3 linked regions of the Homo sapiens genome follow. The protein of the gene in region 1 interacts with the protein of each later gene in a pairwise test. Each region holds a gene or a part of one and is shown in the gene's direction. Other genes may lie near its edges.

Evidence for each region.
Region 2: the proteins of RHOH (region 1) and XPNPEP1 interact in binary tests that used the Homo sapiens proteins (3 or more experiments, as listed by UniProt).
Region 3: the proteins of RHOH (region 1) and MTX2 interact in binary tests that used the Homo sapiens proteins (3 or more experiments, as listed by UniProt).

Annotation. Positions count from the first base shown.
Region 1 is NC_000004.12:40,242,002-40,247,476, forward strand, and holds the end of RHOH (rho-related GTP-binding protein RhoH precursor), read left to right. Parts: intron 1-712; 5' UTR 713-833; exon of another isoform or gene 834-845; intron 846-1,176; 5' UTR 1,177-1,385; coding exon 1,386-1,961; 3' UTR 1,962-4,966; downstream 4,967-5,475.
Region 2 is NC_000010.11:109,920,496-109,928,425, reverse strand, and holds the start of XPNPEP1 (xaa-Pro aminopeptidase 1), read left to right. Parts: upstream 1-4,914; 5' UTR 4,915-4,992; coding exon 4,993-5,024; intron 5,025-5,179; exon of another isoform or gene 5,180-5,529; coding exon of another isoform or gene 5,530-5,546; intron 5,547-7,930. UniProt on the Homo sapiens protein: Metalloaminopeptidase that catalyzes the removal of a penultimate prolyl residue from the N-termini of peptides, such as Arg-Pro-Pro. Contributes to the degradation of bradykinin.
Region 3 is NC_000002.12:176,272,420-176,279,457, forward strand, and holds part of MTX2 (metaxin-2), read left to right. Parts: intron 1-7,038. UniProt on the Homo sapiens protein: Involved in transport of proteins into the mitochondrion.

The DNA of each region.
Region 1 (5,475 bases):
CATGACACATGTCAGGAAGATCGCCAGGGAGGGGAGGTTACAAGCCCAGGTTGCAGGAATAACCTTTACTCTGAATTTTGGTCTGAAAGACTTTTCCTTCGTCTGGAGCTGGGCTGGCCTTGTGATATTGTGCCACAGCAGACACGACACTGTCTCCAAGGCGGAGCTCATTGCCTGGGGCTTTCCCACTGCACTGAATGAGAATTTATTTGGCCTTTAATGAAATTCAGATTGTCCCATTTATGCAGTCCTCTGTTTAAGTGACAGGCACTGAATATGGTTGCTTTCAAGCAAGTTATTTTGTTTAACCAGGGGCCTAGCGGAGTTCGGGATACACAGATGGCCACCAAAAATGTTAAAAGAAAGAAATAACTTAATCCTCACAGCATCTCTGAGAAGTGGTTCCTAAATTTATCACAATCTTGCAGATGTGTAAGCTGAGGTGTGGAGTTCAAGCAGCGTGCTCAAAGCCATGTGTAGGTGACAGTGCCTGATTTCAGATGCAGATAACTCTAAGGCCAGTCTGTTGCATCTCTTACCAGTTTTTGGAAAAACCTCAAGGGAAAAACCACAGCAAATTTTTAGAGTTCTAGTAATTTCTTTTCCCCTATTACAACACATATTCCCATAAACCAAGGACTGTGTGATTAGTCAATAAACAAAAAGAAATGCATATAGTATCTGTCGCTCATAACGTTCTTGTTTCTTGCAGTTTCCAACATGGCTAGATCCATCAGAAACTGAAGCCGTGGAGAACGCTCTCGGGGCCTTTGCCACTTCTTGGAGTAGAAGCCGACAGAGAGCTGTTTGGAAACTTCTCCTTCACACACCAGGTTGCTACTGAGGTCTATTTCATGTTGCAGTCAGAGCAGTTGCTTGTGTTTTTTAGTGCTTGAGTGATTTTACAGATAAAGTCAGCTTCTGCTTCTTGACCGGGAGGCATTTGTGTGTGTGTGTGTGTGTGTGTGTGTGTGTGTGTGTGTGTGTGTGTGTGTTGGGGGAAGACAGATCTAAGCTCTCCCTGTGAGGGGAAGAGTGGATTGCACAAGCGGGGTTGGATGGCTACACTGAGATTACCCCACATTTAATCAGTTTGCCAATGAGGAAGCCCCTTATCTTCAAAAAAGGCAAGAAAGAAAGAAAGACTTCATTTTCCCCCTTCTCTTTCTGTTCCAGTTGAAGACTAGGCTTTGGAGGTTTTCAAAGCAGACGGTGCTTGGATGGGCAGGGAGAAGTAACATTCTGCAAATCGCCGTCAGAGGTCCTGAGGACACAGACCTACCTGGCTTGCATTCCCCTTGCTGAATGGCGTGTGCTGCAGCTGCCCACTGAGGGCTCTTTTCCCTGGGATTCTGGACTTCAGAGTAGGACAGCAGGCTGGGAAGATGCTGAGTTCCATCAAGTGCGTGTTGGTGGGCGACTCTGCTGTGGGGAAAACCTCTCTGTTGGTGCGCTTCACCTCCGAGACCTTCCCGGAGGCCTACAAGCCCACAGTGTACGAGAACACAGGGGTGGACGTCTTCATGGATGGCATCCAGATCAGCCTGGGCCTCTGGGACACAGCCGGCAATGACGCCTTCAGAAGCATCCGGCCCCTGTCCTACCAGCAGGCAGACGTGGTGCTGATGTGCTACTCTGTGGCCAACCATAACTCATTCCTGAACTTGAAGAACAAGTGGATTGGTGAAATTAGGAGCAACTTGCCCTGTACCCCTGTGCTGGTGGTGGCCACCCAGACTGACCAGCGGGAGATGGGGCCCCACAGGGCCTCCTGCGTCAATGCCATGGAAGGGAAGAAACTGGCCCAGGATGTCAGAGCCAAGGGCTACCTGGAGTGCTCAGCCCTTAGCAATCGGGGAGTACAGCAGGTGTTTGAGTGCGCCGTCCGAACTGCCGTCAACCAGGCCAGGAGACGAAACAGAAGGAGGCTCTTCTCCATCAATGAGTGCAAGATCTTCTAAACCCCAAGAGACTTCACACAACACTTATGTATGCACCCCAAAGACTAATGGGGAGAGGGAGGGCCGGGAAGCCAGGAAAGCTTGGTGTTTTCTCTGGGTACACCCCAAGCAGCGTCTCCTTTTGGATACAGTTATTGATGAGGCTTGGCCACTGGATGTTTTCACTAACTACACTCTACAAGTGAACTCCTTGCCCAGGCCAGTTAGAAAATCCCTTGGGGAACTGTGATGAATATTCCATCTTTGATTAAAAAAGTGAAATAGTCTCCATAATTTTGGACGATGAAGTGAGTTTTTCAAAGAATTCCATATTTAAAGACACATTTTATTTAACTAATAACAAAATGTATTGCTTTTGTATATATTTAGTTTTCACACTTGGAAAATCTTTTCCTACATCCTCGAAAACATAAACTCCTCTGTGAGTGAAATGCTTGTACGAAGCTCTGCCATATGTTTGTAGTGTTATTATTTTCACCTCAAGTAGAAAGTCTGTTGAAACCACTTGGCTGCTGGATTTAAATGGGTAATCAAATTTAAAAATGACCATAAATGAATCTTTGCAATTTGTTTTCTACTTACCTGTTATTCACAGTTGGATATAAAATACAGTTCCATAAGATATCCTAATACTGCCTAATGATTTTAAAGTTATCACTATATTTTTCTGAAATGATAAAACATCATTCATTTATTTACTATATTGTCTTTCACTCAACTCCAGTTATGCACTAAATATTCTCCTCTCATTCACCAAGATTGATTGAAACACCATCTTTCAGGTAGAGAATCAGACTGCTCCAAGCAATGGCAACAGAACTTGGAACAGAAGCAAGAGAGTGTCACTTTCACTTCTGGTAGGGTGGTTCCCAGGCGACTGCAGGTCCTGTGAAAGACAGGGGTCTCAAAGTTCTGTTAATTTCACAAATTTGTTATAAATTTGTCTAAACTGAGCTGTTGTGGCAACATAATTTATGAATCGTAAGGTCTAGTTAGGCTTATTGGGGGGATATCTACATATATATGTGTATGTAAGGGAAAAAAGGTAGAATTTACAGCCTTCAAAAAAGAAAAATCAAATTCCAAGCACAGGAATAAGAAAGCTATATAGCAACTGCTCAGAGAACAGAAAGTTATCAGGGGAAATACTGAATAAATAGACACACACATACTCGCACACAACCTGCTCTCACACACACAACTCAAACCTCATTCTATCGAATAGTTTAAAAGCAATGGTGTTGCTCATCTGTTAAAGTGGAGAACAGAGGACTACATAACTTAAGGTAGAAATTGCAAAGGCTGGGTTGGGCAGGGCGTGGTGGCTCACTTTGGGAGGCTGAGACGGGTGGATCACGAGGCCAGGAGTTCAAGACCAGCCTGGCCAACATGGTGAAACCCCGTCTCTTCTAAATATTAGCTAAAAATTAGCTGGGTGTGGTGGCACATGCCTGTAGTTCTAGCTACTCAAGAGGCTGAGGCAAAAGAATTGCTCGAACCTGGGAGGCGGAGGTTGCAGTAAGCCAAGATCGCGCCACTGCACTCCAGCCTGGGCAACAGAGGGAGACTCCATCTCAAAAAAAAAAAAAAGAAAAGAAAAAAAAGAAAGAAATTGCAAAGGCTGGCACCTAGATAGATCAATCAATTACTGCCCTAATCAAAACTTAGAAACACTCTGAACCACCTTTATGAAGGTACATCATTGTTATGGGGTAACGTGACTATTACACACAAAAGGTAAGGTGGCTGGCATAAATGACTTTGATTAGAATTATGTTGACATAGCCAAACCAGTTTCTCTGTTCCCTTGTGTGGTCAATTCCTTACAGCTATAATCAGTATCAAAAACCAAATGTGTGCTCATTCACACATTGCTTTCTCCTTCTCTCTCTCCTCCTATCCACAGCCAGTAAAAGGCCTGGGACCGGGGTCTTGATCTCTGGTGGGAGGATTGCCTCGGTTCCCTGGGGCTGACACAGCTGCCTTCACTCAGACTTCTCTGCTCTCCAGGCGGTGGCTTGTACTCACCTCTAAGTCACCCGCCTCCCTTGATTGGAGAGCCCGTGTCTCTAGTTCTCAGCTCAGGGTTGGGGGGCTTGAAAGATGACCGGGCAGGGGAGGGGAAGGGATCTCATATCCTCTGATATCCCTGGGATTCTCTTCTTCTCCCTCAACCCACAGAGTCTTAAATCACGGATGCGGGTGTTCAGGGCCAGCCTTTGCCATGAGAGGTATTTAACATGTCAGTGGGAAGGAATTTCTATTCACTGCAGTGGGCTGTCCCCCAGGCTTTTCTTTCTCTCTTGTTGAAGAGAGATGGGGGTGGGTATCTGAAAGTGGGAAGGGCCACCATACATGATCCTAAGTGAAGGAAGAGGAGGTGGTTCCACGGTGGCAGCAGAGCAGGAAGGGAAGGCCAGAGAGGGCACACTCAAATGGCTTTGCTGTCACCTGGGCAAAGACACACAGGTGAGACCTCCACCTGTTGGCGGGAGCCAAGCTTAACAGCTCCGTCTGGGAACTCTCATACCTGAGACCAGGAATCTATGTGTAAACCCTTTCCAGTGGCAGAATCTGGCAGAAATGGAGCCGATAAGTGTCTGTCTTCCTGCTAGACTGCTGTTCTTGAAGGTAGCACTGCCTCCTGGTCTCCTCAGTGTCCCCAGGGCTCAGCACAGGGAAGGCAATGGAGGTAAAGTTGTGTTAAACTGAAATGGAGAGAAAGACAGTAATTGGGCTTCTGTGCCACACAGTGGTTATAGAAAGCAAGCAGACCCTCACCAGCCTTGTAGGGGTAAGAAGAAAAATAGGTCATATGGGTAGAATCCGTGTGTTGTGTGTTCTACATAAGCACATACTTACTTTTGCCTGCCTAGATGCAGACACAGGTTTCTTATACTTCAAAATTTGTGGTACCTTTTTGTAGACTATTGCATATCGATTCTTAACTATTCCAAGTAGCAGCATTAAATATGTTCTTGATGACATTAAAGAGTTAATTTTCATGGTCGGGTAGTTCATTCTTGTCTCTGTCAGCCTGGGCTGCTATAGTGGAAAACCATAGACTAGGGGACTTCAATAACAGAAATTTATCTCTCACAGTTCTGGAGGCTGGGAAGTCCAAGGCAAGGGACAGCATGGTTGGGTTCTGGTGAGACCCCTCTGCCTGGTTTGCAATGGCTGTCTTCTTGCTGTGTTCTCACATGGTAGAGCAAGAGATCATCTTTCTGGTGTTTCTTCTTCTAAGGATAATAATCCCATTCATGAGGGCTCAACCCTCATGATCTAATACCTCGCAAAGTCCTCACCTCCAAATACCATCACACTGGGGATTAGGCCTCAACATTTTGAGATTTGTGGGGACACAAACATTCCATCCATAGCAATTCTATTCTGTCTTACTTTCCACTGACTAGTTAACTGGGCAGCAGAATCCAGTGCAGTGAGTGACAAGAAAGCTAGAAGCATCCTGATTAAGTTTGTTCAGTGCTTCAGATGTGCTGTGCCGGCCACC
Region 2 (7,930 bases), on another chromosome or scaffold:
GGCCATGTTATAATGATTTATGAGAGCTTCACTCATTACTGTTCTTGTAACTATCAATTTTATTAGAACAAACTGAAATGTTTGAAAAGGTTAAAACTCTCCTCTAAAGCTATAATTTTGTTTGATCTCCTACAGGGATTTCTATTTTTTTTAGTCCTCTCATCTGGGAGTTTATCAAGAGATGTTGCTCCTGTTTCAATAAGTGGTCAGGTCATCAACCAATTATCAAATTGAATACTAGAGGGCTACTATTACTTGTAGTGCTTGGATTTGGAGTACAAAACGAGTTCCTTGGCTCTGCCTTCCAAGGAGTAAGGGCCAGAGAAATTATTAGTACTTTGAGTTTCTTGTTAATAAAAAACAATCTCAAAAAAATGGCAAAATTAAAATCAGCCCAAGTTCTGCCACCTCAAGATATGCACTAAGATTTTGTGGATCACTTTCCTTTTATTCTAAAAAAGTACTTACTCTGGGTGTAATGGCTCGTGCCTATAATCCTAACACTTTGGGAGGCTGAGGCGGGAGGATTGCTTGAGCCCAGGAGTTTGAGACCAAGGCTGGGCAACATAGGGAGACCCTATTTCTACCAAAGGAAAAAAAATTAGCTGGGTGTGGTGGTGTGTGCCTATGGTCCCAGCTATTCAGAAGGTTAAGGTGGGAGGATTGCTTGAGCCTGGGAGGTCGAAGCTGCAGTGAGCTGTGATCACACCACTGCACTCCAGCCTGGGTGACAGAACAAGACCCTGTCTCTCCCTCCCAAAAAACTCTGTATCTATATATCCGTATCAGTATACATAGTTATGGATATGTTATAAAAATGGGATATTGGCCAGGCGCAGTGGCTCACGCCTGTAATCCCAGCATTTTGGGAGGCCGAGGTGGGCAGATCACAAGGTCAGGAGATCGAGACCATCCTGGCTAACACGGTGAAACCCCATCTCTACTACAAATACAAAAAATTAGCCAGGTGTGGTGGCGGGAGCCTGTAGTCCCAGCTACTCGGGAGGCTGAGGCAGGAGATTGGTGTGAACCCAGGAGGCGGAGCTTGCAGTGAGCCGAGACTGTGCCACTGCACTCCAGCCTGAGTGACAGAGCGAGACTCTGTCTCAAAAAACAAAAAACAAAAAACAAAAACAAAAAAAGGGATATTATATTGTTTTATAATTTACTTTTTCCCTTTGTTAGTTCGTGATTGTCTACATTAATAAAATGATATCTACTCATGCATAAAATTCAATGGTACAGATGGTTACTTAAGTAAAGTCCAGTGGGACATCTGGTTTAAGGTGTTGCAGGATGCAGCACTCAAATAACGTTTTGAGGTCTGCTTCTCCCCTTTCTATTTGCTCTGTCTTCTGCTGCCTTGGTGCCATTCACATGTTGCACATAGAGGCAGCAGTTCGAGTATATGCATCCAGGATCTTGGCTGGCAGAAGGAAGCAAGACTCTATTCCCATAGCAATATCTGATCCTATCATTGTAGCCTATGCCTGGGTTACATGATACACTCTTGGAATCCAAGTGTTGCACTTGGATAACATACATAGAGAATGGGGAAAGGAGGGAAGTAGGGAGAGGTGGGCCCCAGAGGGAATTGGTAGGATGGTTATCAGAAGGAGAATGAATGAATGTCGGGTGGCCCAAAACACAGGTCCACAATCTATACACGGACATTTGGAACTTGTTTTACATTGGTTTCCTAGGGCTTTCGTAACAAAGCAACACAAACTGCGTGATTTGAAAACAAATTTGTTGTCTCACTGTTCTGGAGGGCTGGAAGTCCAAGATCAAGATACCCACAGGGTTAGTTCACTCCATGGGCTGTGAGGGAGAATCTGTTCCATGGCTCTGTCCTAGCTTTCGGCAGTTTGTTGGCAGTCCTGGTGTTTGTTGGCTTGTAGATGCATCGTCCTGATCTCTGCTTTCGTGTTCACATGGTGTTCTTCCTGTGTGCACAGTGTGATTTCTTTTTCTGTTTTAAATAAAGACACTTCATATTGGATTAGGGATCCTTCCTACTCTAATATGACTGCATTTTAATTAATTACATCTGCACTGATCCTATTGCCAAATAAGATCACATTCGAAAGTACTAGGGGTTAGAGCTTCAACATATGAATTTTTGAGGTCACAATTCAATCCAACATATTTCTACGCATTTAATATTTCTGGCTACATCTAAGACCCACCCGGTCTGGGTGTGAATGCCAAAACCAGCTGTCTCCCTCTTTCTGCTGTGTGGGCTAGGAGACTGGATGAGGCCACCTCTAGGGTCCCTTCCAGATAACTTCGCGATTAAGTGTCAGGGCTAGGAATCCATCCTGCTGTCTGAATGTATGTTACAGTACCACCACTTACTAGCTCAGGGACTTTGGGCAAGGGGCTTAACCTCTGCAAATTTCAGTCTCCTCAACCAGTAAAATGAGGATAAGAGTCCTTCACCCATTGGTTTGTTGTGGGTTAGACACATAGCCTTCAATGAATGTCAGGCAGTGTGACTGTTCCACTTCTTTGAGGATGCAAGGACTGTAGAGCCAGGAGAAGAACCTATATAACTCCTGGTGTTCTCATTCTCTCATGGTAATTCAGTGCTATAACTTCTCCAGAGGTTCTCTTGTTAGAACTTCAAGAGCGAGGCCGGGCACAGTGGGTCATGCCTGTAATCCCAGCACTTTGGAAGGTCGAGGCCAAGGAGTTCAAGACCAGCCTGACCAACATGGTGAAACTCCGTCTCTACTAAATACAAAAAATTAGCCGGGTGTGGTGGCGCATGCCTGTAATCCCACCTACTTAGGAGGCTGAGGCAGGAGAATTGCTTGAAGCCGGGAGGCAGAGGTTGCAGTGAGCTGAGATTGTGCCATTGTACTCCAGCCTGGGCAAAAAGAGCAAAACTCCATCTCAAAAAACAAACAAACAAAAAAACTTCAAGAGGGGAAAGGGTTCCTTTTTTTATCTTGCAAACAGGAACTCAAATCCAGCTCAGGGAATGCAAGGTATTTCTCTCTCTCCCCTGAAGCTGGATGCCGTAAATTCTGAGCCAACTCCTTTTCTTTTAGGCAATGTGATTATTAAATACCTGTCCCCCTTAAGTTTCACTTATCTCTCTCTCTCTTATCTCGTTTTCTCTTATAACTTGATTTTTCCCACCAGCTTTCAGATGTGGGCTGGAACCAGTATTTTATTTACAATCTCTCTGTTTTTGGCTTCATAAATTTGGGGAAATGCAACAGATGTGTGCTGCTTTCCCAGGAAGCACATCTTTAGTTTTTTCATGCTTTAACTACACAGTCTAATTCGGCTTGCCTAAATGCTTATTCAATAACGACTTTGAGTTCTTGCAGGTAGCAGAACCTAGCTGATACAGGTATATTAGGCCTTACACCAAGGTCAAAGCAGGAGGAGGTGCCATTCACCTTTAAAAAAATGTGGTCACTTTCATTTAGTGCCAGGTGTTGTTCTAAGCACCAGGGAAATAACAATGAACAAGAGAGCCACCATCCCTGCTTTTGAGGAGTGCACATTCTGAAACATTCATTTCTGCAGAAAATATATAATGAGAACTTATGACATGTTAGATATTGTTCATCATTAAACAAAACAGAAACAATCTGCACTGATGGTTTTGTTGTGTGCGTGGGTGGTGGCAGGAGAGGGGGAAGAATACAGTACACATAAGTACATTAAAAGAATCCTGTTAAAAGGTGGTAAGTGCTATGGAAAAAATGAAGTAGGGTAAGGCGGATTAGGAATATTGGAATGATTTACAAATTTAAATAGGATGGTCAGGGTAGGTGATACTTGAACGAAGACTTGAAGGAAAATGAGGAAGGGAGCCTCAATATTTGGGGGATGAGCAAGTCCAAAAGCCCTGGGACATGAGTGTACCCTGCTTTTTCAAGGAGAGCCAGGAGGCCATTTCAGCTGAAGAAGAGTGAGGAAGGTGAGAACAGGAGGAAATGTGGCTGGGGGTAGATCAAATGGAGCTTTTATGCTGCGTGAAACGAGAAATTAATGGAAAGTGCTGAGCAAAGAAGTGACCTGGTGTCACGCTTCAAAGGACTGGTCTGGCGGCTTTGTTCAGGCTGGACTGTGCAGGTGCGGGATGGTGAGGGGATATTTGGGGGGCTGCTGTAACCACACGGGTGGGGTGGTACAACCCTCTGATGCACATCAGAGGGTAGGAGGTGGAGGTGGTGTGACACGGCCAGATTAGGGGTCTATTTTGGAGGCAGGGCCAACAAGATTTTGCTGGCAGATTAGATGTGGGGTGTGAAAGAGAAGAGGCAGGGAGGATTCCTAAATTTTGCCTCTTAAGAATAGAGTAGCCATTGATTGAGATGGCAAAGAAGACTGGTGGAGAACGTTTTTGCTTTGCTTCGGTGCATTGGGAGTTCCAGGAGTTCCGTTTGGACGTTAAGTTTGAAGGGGCTATTTACTATCCAAGCGGAGCGGAGAGCTGGATTTTGAAGCTCTCTGGGAACATACTTTTGGGGACATTTCTAAAGCTTGAGACCCTGTTCCAAAGCCTCGAAGACCCTGTCGAGGTTCTTCCGGAGCCGGCCACGTCCCTCTCTTCTCAGCCCTCCTAAATTAAGCCGGAAAATCCCTGGGACAGTAGCCCCTTTATTCGGCAAAGCCCTTTTTCCTCTTTGAGGAATGACGACAAAAACGAACAAAAATGAAGACACTCAGCAGCACTGCGTCCTTTCCCCGCTCGCTGCAGGGAGAGGCAATGCGGACTGGTGTGGAAGGGCAGGCCCCGCTCTGGGCCGCAGGCGCTGCGGCCGCGAACCCCAGGTCCGGGAGTGTGGGCGGGGCCTGCGTGTGGGCGGGGCCGCGGCGCCAGCGCCCGCCACGGGCGAGGGCGTGGCCGACCCGGCGCTAGCCCGCCCGCCCGCCCGCCGGCTCTCGCGCCTCCTTCGCGCCGGCCCTTCCGCGGGTGATCAGCTGGTCTGCGCTCCCCTGACGTGGGCTGGGGCACGTCACCGCCGAATGGCAGCCTCCAGAAAGCCACCGCGAGTAAGGTGAGGGCACTCCGCCGGCAGCCGGCGTCCGGGCAGCGTGCAGCCCTCGCTGCGCGGCCGCGCGTGTTGCACCTCGGCGGGCAGGGACGCGCGGGTGAGGAGCCCGGCCCGCCGCAGTCTGGCGAGGGCCGCGCTCGCCGGAGCCCCGGAACAGGAGCCGGGGGAAGGGGTCCATGAGGCCGGGCGAGATCCGGTTCGTTTCCGGAGGGTCGGTGGGCACGGGGCGGCCCGAGTCTGGTTCCTGGACGCGTATGCCCGCGGAACTGCTGCACTCGGCCTGAGGGGGCGGCGGCCGTCACAGTTCCTGGCCCGCGGGAAGGCCCCGTTCTTGGAGGAAGTTGGCCCCTCTTCGTGTCCGGGGAGGTGGGCGAGCCTTTGCCCTCGCTTCTGTTACCCAGGAATCTAAACCTCAAGTTACAATCTCGACAATACTGACTCCTGCAATTCACTCTACTGATCTGTCACCGCCACAAGGATAGACGGTCGCGGGCCCCTCCCTACCCAAATGGTTTCAGAGGCTGTGTAAGGGAATATTTTGGTATAATCTCCAGGAAAATCCCCCCAGTAGCCTGCCCTGGGCTCTCCTTGGGCATAGGAGGGTGAGACAGATAATTTCCCGGCCTCAAGTTAAACATGTTTTAGTTTATTCCCCTGCCATAACCAGGATGTACTTATCAGAGCCTCTGACAAAGTGGGAGACGGAGAGAGGTGTTCAGAGTTCATGGAGGCCACAGGCCAGACTCCCTGGCCATCCCCAAGGGGTCACCCACCTGCTAACCACTTGAGACATGAATGCACTCACTTTGCAGCATGGCCAGGCTTTCTTGCTGAACACAGACCATGGCTCCTGCTTGTGTTTGTGAGTAGGGGGGTCCCAAACCTACCTTGACCTGGATTTGCCGTTGCCACAGCTTGTTAAGGGTGAGCAGAAAACCAGACCCACCCTGTGGAAGTATGTGGGAGGGGTGGAGAACTTCCATCTGGAAGGAGCTTCCTGTAAGTGAAGTGCTGGAAATGGAGTCAGGCAAGTGGATAATGATGAGTTAGGCTGTAGGCCTCAGGTGGTCTTTAGGGGGCCAAGGTGATCTGTGCTAGATTTATAGACTCACAGCCTTTTAGGAGCAGAAGAGTCTTTTCTACACCAGCTGGTAGAGTCTTTTTTACCTCAAAGGAAAGTCCAGTGAAAGGCTGAGAGAGGGGAAGCCATTTTCCACAGGCGCCTCCCCTACTGGTAGAATTTGAGTGCCATTCCTTGTAAAAGTGAGCACTTCTTTCAGTTTCGGTAATGGAAACTGAACTCAAATTGATTTACCTAAAATGGGGTTGAGCTGGCTTCTAGTGTGGCTGAATCCGGGAGCACCACCAACATTGGCTTCAGACTTCTCTTTATCATCTCTTGGCTCTGATTTATTCAGTATCCGCTTCATTCTCAGGGAGACTTTCTCCTTATGGCAGGTTATGACAGTTCTAGGCTGACAGCCCCAGCAGAGAAGTTGAGCCCTCCTTCCTAATGGAGCAGAAGTCCCTGATCTGATGCTCACTGGGCTGCCTTAATTCTCATGTTCATCTGTGAACCAATCATTATGGCCAGAGGGAGGGATTGACCTGCTTTGGGTCCCAGAGCCTGTTAGGTGTTTGGATAAGACTGCTTTGAACCCCTTGGGCTGAAATGGAGAGGGTACATTCTCAAAAGGAAAACCAAGGTTCCCATCAAAAGGAGGGATGGATTCTGGGTAGACAAAGACAACATTGCTTACTTCCCAACCTTAGAACTTGTTCCAGTTTACCCTTGTCTCATCCACTAGGTGTGATTGAGCATCTTGTTCCTTGTTTTGCCCCATGCTGAACGCTACACATGTGTGATTCCCATGAACTGGGGGTTGCAGGGGGGTGAGGTATTCAGAACCCTGCCAGAATTTCTTGGAAAAAGAGGGAGAAGGCCTTTTCTAGTGCTACCATAACCATCTTATACAAAGATTGAAAGTGCTCTGCATGCTTCTTGCCCCTTACCCACTTTGTGGCTCATCATGAAGTTGAGAAGGTGTAGGTCGAAGAAGTTCTGGGAAGGGTAGGAGCACTGAGCTGGATGTTGGGAGGCTGGAACGCTGGTTCTAGCTCTGTCAGCAGTTAGCTGTGAGGCCTTGAGCCAGTCATTTGATCTTTGTTTCTTGGTTTCCTGGTCTAGAGGAGGGAATTGAGTTGGATAGTCCCTGAGGTATATTCTTCTAGTTCTTAATATTTAATGATAATTGTGCTTTGACAGAGAACTTAAGAATTTTATCTGTCCAAACAAGTGAAAGGTGGATAGATCTTGGACTCTGCGGAGACCAAGATACGACAAGAACAGAGCAGCTGTAGTATTGAGCTGCTTCGTAGCTCCTGTGATCCTGACAGAAAGGTGGAGGTGTTGATGCTCACACAGAGAGTTTGAGCTCACCTGTCAGACCTAGTTTCTGGTCTTGGCTTTGCGGCTACTGAGTTATATGGCCTATGGTAAGTTATCTTTGTTTTTTTATTCTGTAAAATGAATGAATAGGATTACCTTAAGGTAACCTTGGCTAGGCACGGTGGCTCACACCTATAGTCCCAGCACTTTGGGAGGCTGAGGTGGGAGGATCACTTGAGGCCAGGAGTTTGAGACCAGACTGGGCAATGTGGTGAGATCCTGTCTCTTCAGAAAATTATTAAAAAAAAAAAATCAGGTTGGTGTGATGGCACATACCTGTAGTCCTAGGTCCTTGGGAGATTGAGGCAGGAGAATTGCTTGAGCTTAGGAGTTTGAGGCTGCCATAAGCTAAGATTGTGCCACTGCACTCCAGCCTGAGTGACACAGCAAGACCCTGTCTCTAAAAAAATGATAACCTTCCACCTCTGTAGTCATGTGTCTGAACCAGTCATTGGGATCA
Region 3 (7,038 bases), on another chromosome or scaffold:
TCTTACAAAAATTTAAGTTGGTGCGGTGATGGATATATTAATTACCTTGATTTATTCTTTCTATTCTTTGATTTATTTAGTTCAAAATATCACGTTGTACCTCCTAAATGTACAGTTATTATTTGTCAAAAACATTTATACAAAAATTATGGTATGGTCACATTTTTACAGATCCAAAAATGAAGAAGTATATCTGTTAAATACGTTGTCTTGAAAGCTATGGTTATATTAAGTAAAAAGTTATAAAATAATATCTATTTTGTATGAACTCATGAAATCTATATAAACATACATATGTTTATATATGTTAAGAATATTCAACTAATTGTAACTAGCGATTGGGATAATAAAGATAGATTGTTGGTAGAGGGTGGAGGAACTATATTTCTGAATTGTTTGAATTACTATAGTGAGCATAGTTTACTTTTGTAATTTAAATGATTGTAATTGTTAAAATTTATAAGATTATGTTTTGCCAAGAAGTGAAAACAGGAGGCTGCCTTAATCTGTTTTGTGTTGCTATAACAGAATACCACAGACTAGGTAAGTTACAAAGAAAAAAAATTCAAGTCTCACATTTTGGGAGGCAACGAACTCCAGCTTCAAGGTGCCGGTATCTGATGCGAGCCTTTGTGCTGCATTATCCTGTGGCAGAAGGTGGAAAGGCCAGGGAGGGCAAGAGCCAGGGACTGAGAGGGCTGAACTTGCTTTTACAACAACCTACTCTTGGGATAAAGAGATGAATCCATTCATGAGGGTGGAGCCCTCATGATCTAGTCATCTCTTAACAATCCCACCTGTTAATACTGTCAGAATGGTAATTCCATTTCAGCATGAGTTGTGAAGGGGATATTCAGACTATAGCAGTGGTTAAAGTAATAATTTATCGGAAACCCTGTGTTTGACTTGTAAATGACTTATAAATGTGACTCAAATCCAGCAACTATTCACAGTGTTCTGTTTCTGGTAGTACAGGTTGGAGTTATGTATCTATATAGATCTGTTATAACTTAAGTAATTATGAATCTGTTTTTGTAGTTGAGAGCTCTAATTTTTAGTGTATCCAACACTTTGCTTATTACCTTTCCTTCCTGTGGACATGAGCTAACACTGATTATTTCTTTTGGAAACATTTAAAGATATCTGGCATCTCTCTGTGGTATTCTTGAAGTGACTTCTTTGAGATCCTTATTCATAAGGATATCTTTTTAGAAGTCTTCTCTGAACTCCCCAGTTTAAGTGAACTGCTTCTATCTCCTTACTACCAGTATTTCCCTTGCCAACTTTTCTCAGTTATCGTTCCTAAATAGGACTTATTCTGTCCATTTCTACTGCTGTTACCTTAGTTCAAAGCTTTGTCATTTTTTGCTTAGATAACCATAGTAGTCTCTGAATTGATTTCTCTGCTTCCAGTCTGGCTTCCTTCCAGTAGAGTCCATACACTGCAAGCCTCAGTGGGTTTTTTGTTTGTTTTGTTTTATTTTAATTTTCCTTAAAAAAAAAAAAACCTCCTCTTGTTTTAACATTTTGTTGGTTTCTCATTGTCAGTAGGACAGCCTCATGTCTTGTCACTTCTTTCCTTGCCCCTTGCCTGAGATGTGCACTTTGCTTGAATAACTCCTGTTCATCCTTTAAGACTCTGGGCACCGTTTTAACCATTTAATGTAAGTCTACCTGACATTTTTTTCCTGTCAAATGAGAAAGGTTTGTTGTCTAGTTTTTTTTTCCTGATAATGATAATGATATGTTGCCATTATGGAAAATGAAAACAATCCAGAGATAAAGTAAAAATTACCTGAAATCATACCACACAGATTAAGACTTTAAAATTCCATCCATCATTAAAACTTTGATGAGCAAAGCTATTTCATTCTCTTTCCCTGAATTAAAAAAATCGACATATAATATGCATAATTTTTTGTAACCTGTTTTGTCATATATTGGGATCTCTTTTCATGTCTGTGAATGGAATTACACATCATCATTTTAAAATGGTTATGTAGTATTTCATTGTAATGAAGAAGCCAAAATTTACTTAAGTAGTATTACTCGGATGGGTATTTAGAGAGTTGTTATCAGTCAGTTCAACCAGAGAAGCAGAAGTACCAGGATATCTATTTCTCTCTCGAGCCACACACACACATGCATGTATGTGCATACACAAACACATGGCAAAGAATTGGCTCTTAATGTGGAGGCTGGCAAAGTAAGTGCAAAGCATGCAAGGCGGGCAGTCAGGAGCCGGGGGAGATCCAGGACTAAGCACTGGCAAGACCAGGTACTACCTGGAGTGTCTGATCCCAGGGAGGACTTAGACCCTTTTTTAAAGGGCTTTCAACTGATAAAATCAGGCCACTTAGGATACTCTCCCTTTTGATTAATGTAAAGCTAACTAAGTAGGGACTTTAATTATATCAGCAGAATCTCTTTATGGCAGCACCTAGATTAGGGTTAGAAAAGCTAGGAGGAAGTGTGTGTCTGCTACAAAATGACGTTGCCTCTCTTCTCTTCCCAACACCTGGCGGAGAATATCCCTTGTAGCCCACTTTAGAGACATAGTAGAAAGGGAATTTTGGCAAGTGTATTCAGTGTAGGTAAGCTGATGTGTCCCAAAGCCATCACACGTGTGTGTGATTTTTGTCTGTTGTAAGCAGTGCTTACGTAAACATATTTATGCATCTGTTCAGTAGTTTTTTGGAATATATTTTTTAAAGTGGAAGATAATTTTGAACTGTTCTTTTAGCTTAATATGGAAAGAAATGGTAAGTTATGCTTTTGAATGAATAGTTGTTTCTCTAGATGATGATGTGCTGGATTTAGAATTTTTTTTTTTTTTGAGGTGGCATTTTACTCTTGTCACCCAGGCTGGAGGGCAGTGGCACAACCTTGGCTCACTGCAACCTCCACCTCCCAGGTTCAAGTTATTCTCCTGCCTCAGCCTCTTGAGTAGCTGGGATTACAGGTGTCTGCCCCCATGCCCAGCTAATTTTTATATTTTTAGTAGAGATGGGATTTCACCATGTTGGCCAGGCTTGTCTTGAACTGCTGGCCTCAAGTGTTCTGCCTGCCTTAGCCTCCCAAAGTGCTGAGATTACAGGTGTGAGCCACTGTGCCCGGCCTAGAATTTTAAAAGGATAAAAATAGACCTGGATATTATTAAAAATAGTTTAAAAATATTTTATAACCTGTATATTTGTTTTCACTTTTTTTAATGGAGAGATTTTTCAATACATTACTCACATTTTGTTTTTTTAATTTTGTTCTTCCAGTCAGTTGGTTATGAATATATCATAGGGGAGGGTTGTGTAATCCCATTTGGGCTACATGACGGCATTTGGAGCAGCCAAAAGGGTAGAGTACTTGGGTGGACAGGCCTAACTCACTTGCCCATCCCTGTGCCAGGAGTGGCTCCAGGTATTAGGGCTCCACAGTGCCACCAGATACACAAAAGAAGGGAGAGAGGTGTTGAGCACTAAACAGCAGAAATTGGCTGCAGTGTTGATTGCTTCCTTCACGTTGCTTTTACACTTTCTATGGATTTTGAAGTGAAAGGTCTAACCTGGGTTCTTATTCAGCTACTTCCTAGCTGTGTGAACTTGGGCAAATTAACTGCCTTTTTAAGCCTGAGATTTCTCATTTGTAAAATGGTGAAAATAATAATGTGTTACTTTAAAGATACAATTTTGGTAAAGCTTTAAAAATTTATTTGTAAATAACAGATAATTTAATTCAATAATATGAAGTATCTACATACAGTTATTGCAGTTATTAAAATTACTTAGTAATGTATCCTAGAATAATTTGTTATTCCAGGATGTTTATTTCAAGATATATACATTTGATATGCTCCAGCCATGTTTATTTTCATTATAAAATTGAATCTTGGTATAGGTCATATTGGCGGTCTGTTAATTAGAATTGCCATAGCTGGTTATTGATAATAAGAGTAAGCTTTTGAGCTACTGTGTTAAATGATTTATATACGTAATTGCTAATAATAACAATTTGGTCTTGTTAGGTATTTTGTGGATAAGAATACTGAAACTCAGTATAAAGGTTAGGAACAAGGTCATTGGAGTAAGAGCTGGAGTAAGCTCAACCCTGCTTCTTGTTGGCAGGCCTTTCTAGTCCTCAGTTTCCTCATTTGTAAAAGGGGATAATATATTTATAATGTATGTCAAGTATCTAGTATAGGGTGGTAGATAATAAATGTTCAGTACATGTTAGTTTCTATTGTTACTTTTATTGCCCAAGAGCCTTTCACCTTATAGTAAGGGGTCCTTTGAGGATATTAACTCTTAACATGTAGTATCCCATTACCATTTTGGACAGCAGAAAATGCCCAAAGTATTCTTACTTTTCTTTACTCATATACCATCTTTTCTGATTTATTACTCCACCGGTGCCTTGCCATATTTTAAGCACATCAGTTAGTTTCATCATACTATAATTTATTAATCTTTTGAAATAAGAACAATATCTGTTCTGTTCTTTATTTAGAAGCTCAGTAAACTATATAAAGGATGAAAAAAGAATGGTCGGAATATTCCATTTATCTCGTTGTGGGCATTTGGGTGCTTAATTATTTAAATTTATTAATAACTTCATTTAAGCAGTAGCATTAATTTATAGTATGAGCTAGGAAAGTAGTTTTGCAGCGTTCCATGGAACCCATATGTACGCATCTTGAAAGTGTGATTAAAACAGGTATGTTTTTAAAAATTTGTTTTTATATTGGTAATAAAGTGTTTTCATTCCATCCCTCCTCACATGAGTACTGGGGAATCTGGACTTGAAAAGCATTCAGAAGAGTTCCAGAGGCTAAAGGAAGTAGAAAATAAAGGTTTAAAGGCTTTTGTAATATAGAAGTGATGCTATTGCTCACAATGAAGAAAATGATGGTAAAGGCTTGTATATCCATGTATCAGAATATTTAATGATGACAGTTGCAACAGATAATTGAAGAAATACAATGCATTAAATTCATTTTTCTCTTTTTTGAGATGGAGTTGCGCTCTTGTTGCCCAGGCTGGAGTGCAGTGGTACAATCTTGGCTCACTGCAACCTCCGCCTCCTGGGTTCAAGTGATTCTCCTGCCTCAGACTCCTGAGTAGCTGGGATTACAGGCATGTGCCACCACACCTGGCTAATTTTGTATTTTTAGTAGAGACCGGGTTTCTCCACATTGTTCAGGCTGGTCTCGAACTCCCGACCTCAGGTGATCTGCCCACCCCGGCCTCCCAAAGTGCTGGGATTACAGGCGTGAGCCACCGTGCCCAGCCTTTAATCTTTTGCTCTTGAAAATAAAGATATTTTGTTATTTTTACTCAGTATTCTGAGGATTTTCCAGTATTGAGGAAGGCACTGAGGAATTATTAAAAAGTTATTGGACCGACCGTCACGTTTAAGAGAATTAAAAAAAAAACATATTAGTCATATGAATAATCTTACACAGTTGTGCTTATGACCTTGAAGATACGAAGCTGAGATTGAATGGTGCAGATGGTAAAGCAAAATAGTGACAAAATAGGTTATACTTCAGACTAGAGGCAAGATATAGTTTATTGACAGCAGTGGATCCTGTATTTTATTATACTGTATTGCTGAATAGGTTGAAACTGGTTTTTTTTTTTTTTTTTTTTTTTTTTTGAGATGGAGTCTTGCTCTGTTGCCCAGGCTGGAGTGCAGTGGGGTGATCTCAGCTCACTGCAACCTCTGCCTCCCAGGTTCAAGTGATTCTCCTGCCTCAGCCTCCCAAGTAGCTGGGATTATAGGTGCCCACCACCACACCTGGCTAATTTTTGTATTTTCAGTAAAGACGGGGTTTTACCATGTTGGCCAGGCTGGTCTTGAACTGCTGACCTTATGTGATCTGCCCGCCTCAGCCTCCCAAAGTGCTGGGATTATAGGTGTGAGCCACTGCACCTGGCCAAAACTAAATTCTTAACAGCAATATTATGTAAATTTTTGAAAACTTTGATAATAAGATCCCTTCAGAGGCTTGTTTTCTGCTAATGAAATAGTTCATAGGCTGTAATATGAGTTTTAATTTACTTAATGTGGTTTATTAACATTTTATACTCTGAAATTACATGATTTTTAGTTTTTAACTTAAAAGATTTTGGTGATGGGTGCCCCATAAAATTTGTCAGTCTTATTTCTTTGAAGACTTTTGAGTTATTAACGTTAGCCCAAGCTTGCCATATTTTGGTGAAAATTGAAAGAAAACGCCACCAAACTTTTTAATATTTTTCAAACATTTTTGAAGTTTCTTGATAAGCAGTTATCAGATGGACTGAAGATATCAAATAGAGATGAGATATTGAAAATTCAGGCTTCTCATTTTTTTTTCAAAGACAGAAGTTATAATATTCAGTAAATCCAGCTATAGACATTCATATATAGAAGTATTTGCCTTGCCAGTAAAAGGGATGCATGCTTTAATTTTTTATTGCTTTGTAAATGATCCTCTCCTCTATTCTTGAACACTTTTCTTATTTTTGTACGCTCTATAAATGAATTATGGTTTTGAACTTTTTTACATCAGTAATAAAAATGAAATTTGATTGGTTGGTAATAAAGAAGGTTCTTTTCATAAAAGCAATCATTTTGTCATGACAATTCTCGTTAACTGTAACTGTGTTGGCAAAATAGAAACCATAAAATGCATTTCACTGTTTTTATACACTTAGCTATGTTTTTTTGCTGATCATATATTTTATCTCTAAGAACTTGTATAAGCCAAAGAATTTCTTCATAACTTGATCTGTCTTTAGATGGAAAAAAATAGACTTTTGATGTGTATATTTATTACAGTGGATACAGTATCTTTGAGTATTACAATGGTATTTACCCCCACATCATATTTTATTACCTGGTCAATTTAGAGCACTAATCAGAACTTTATATGAATAAATTGTGTCATTTGTATAACATGAAGAGGCCATTATTATTCCAGTGTTTATTTCTGTAAAGTAATATTGGCAGCTGACTCAATGAACTAGCCTTCTTTTGACCTCCATTTCTTTTGATTGTTAG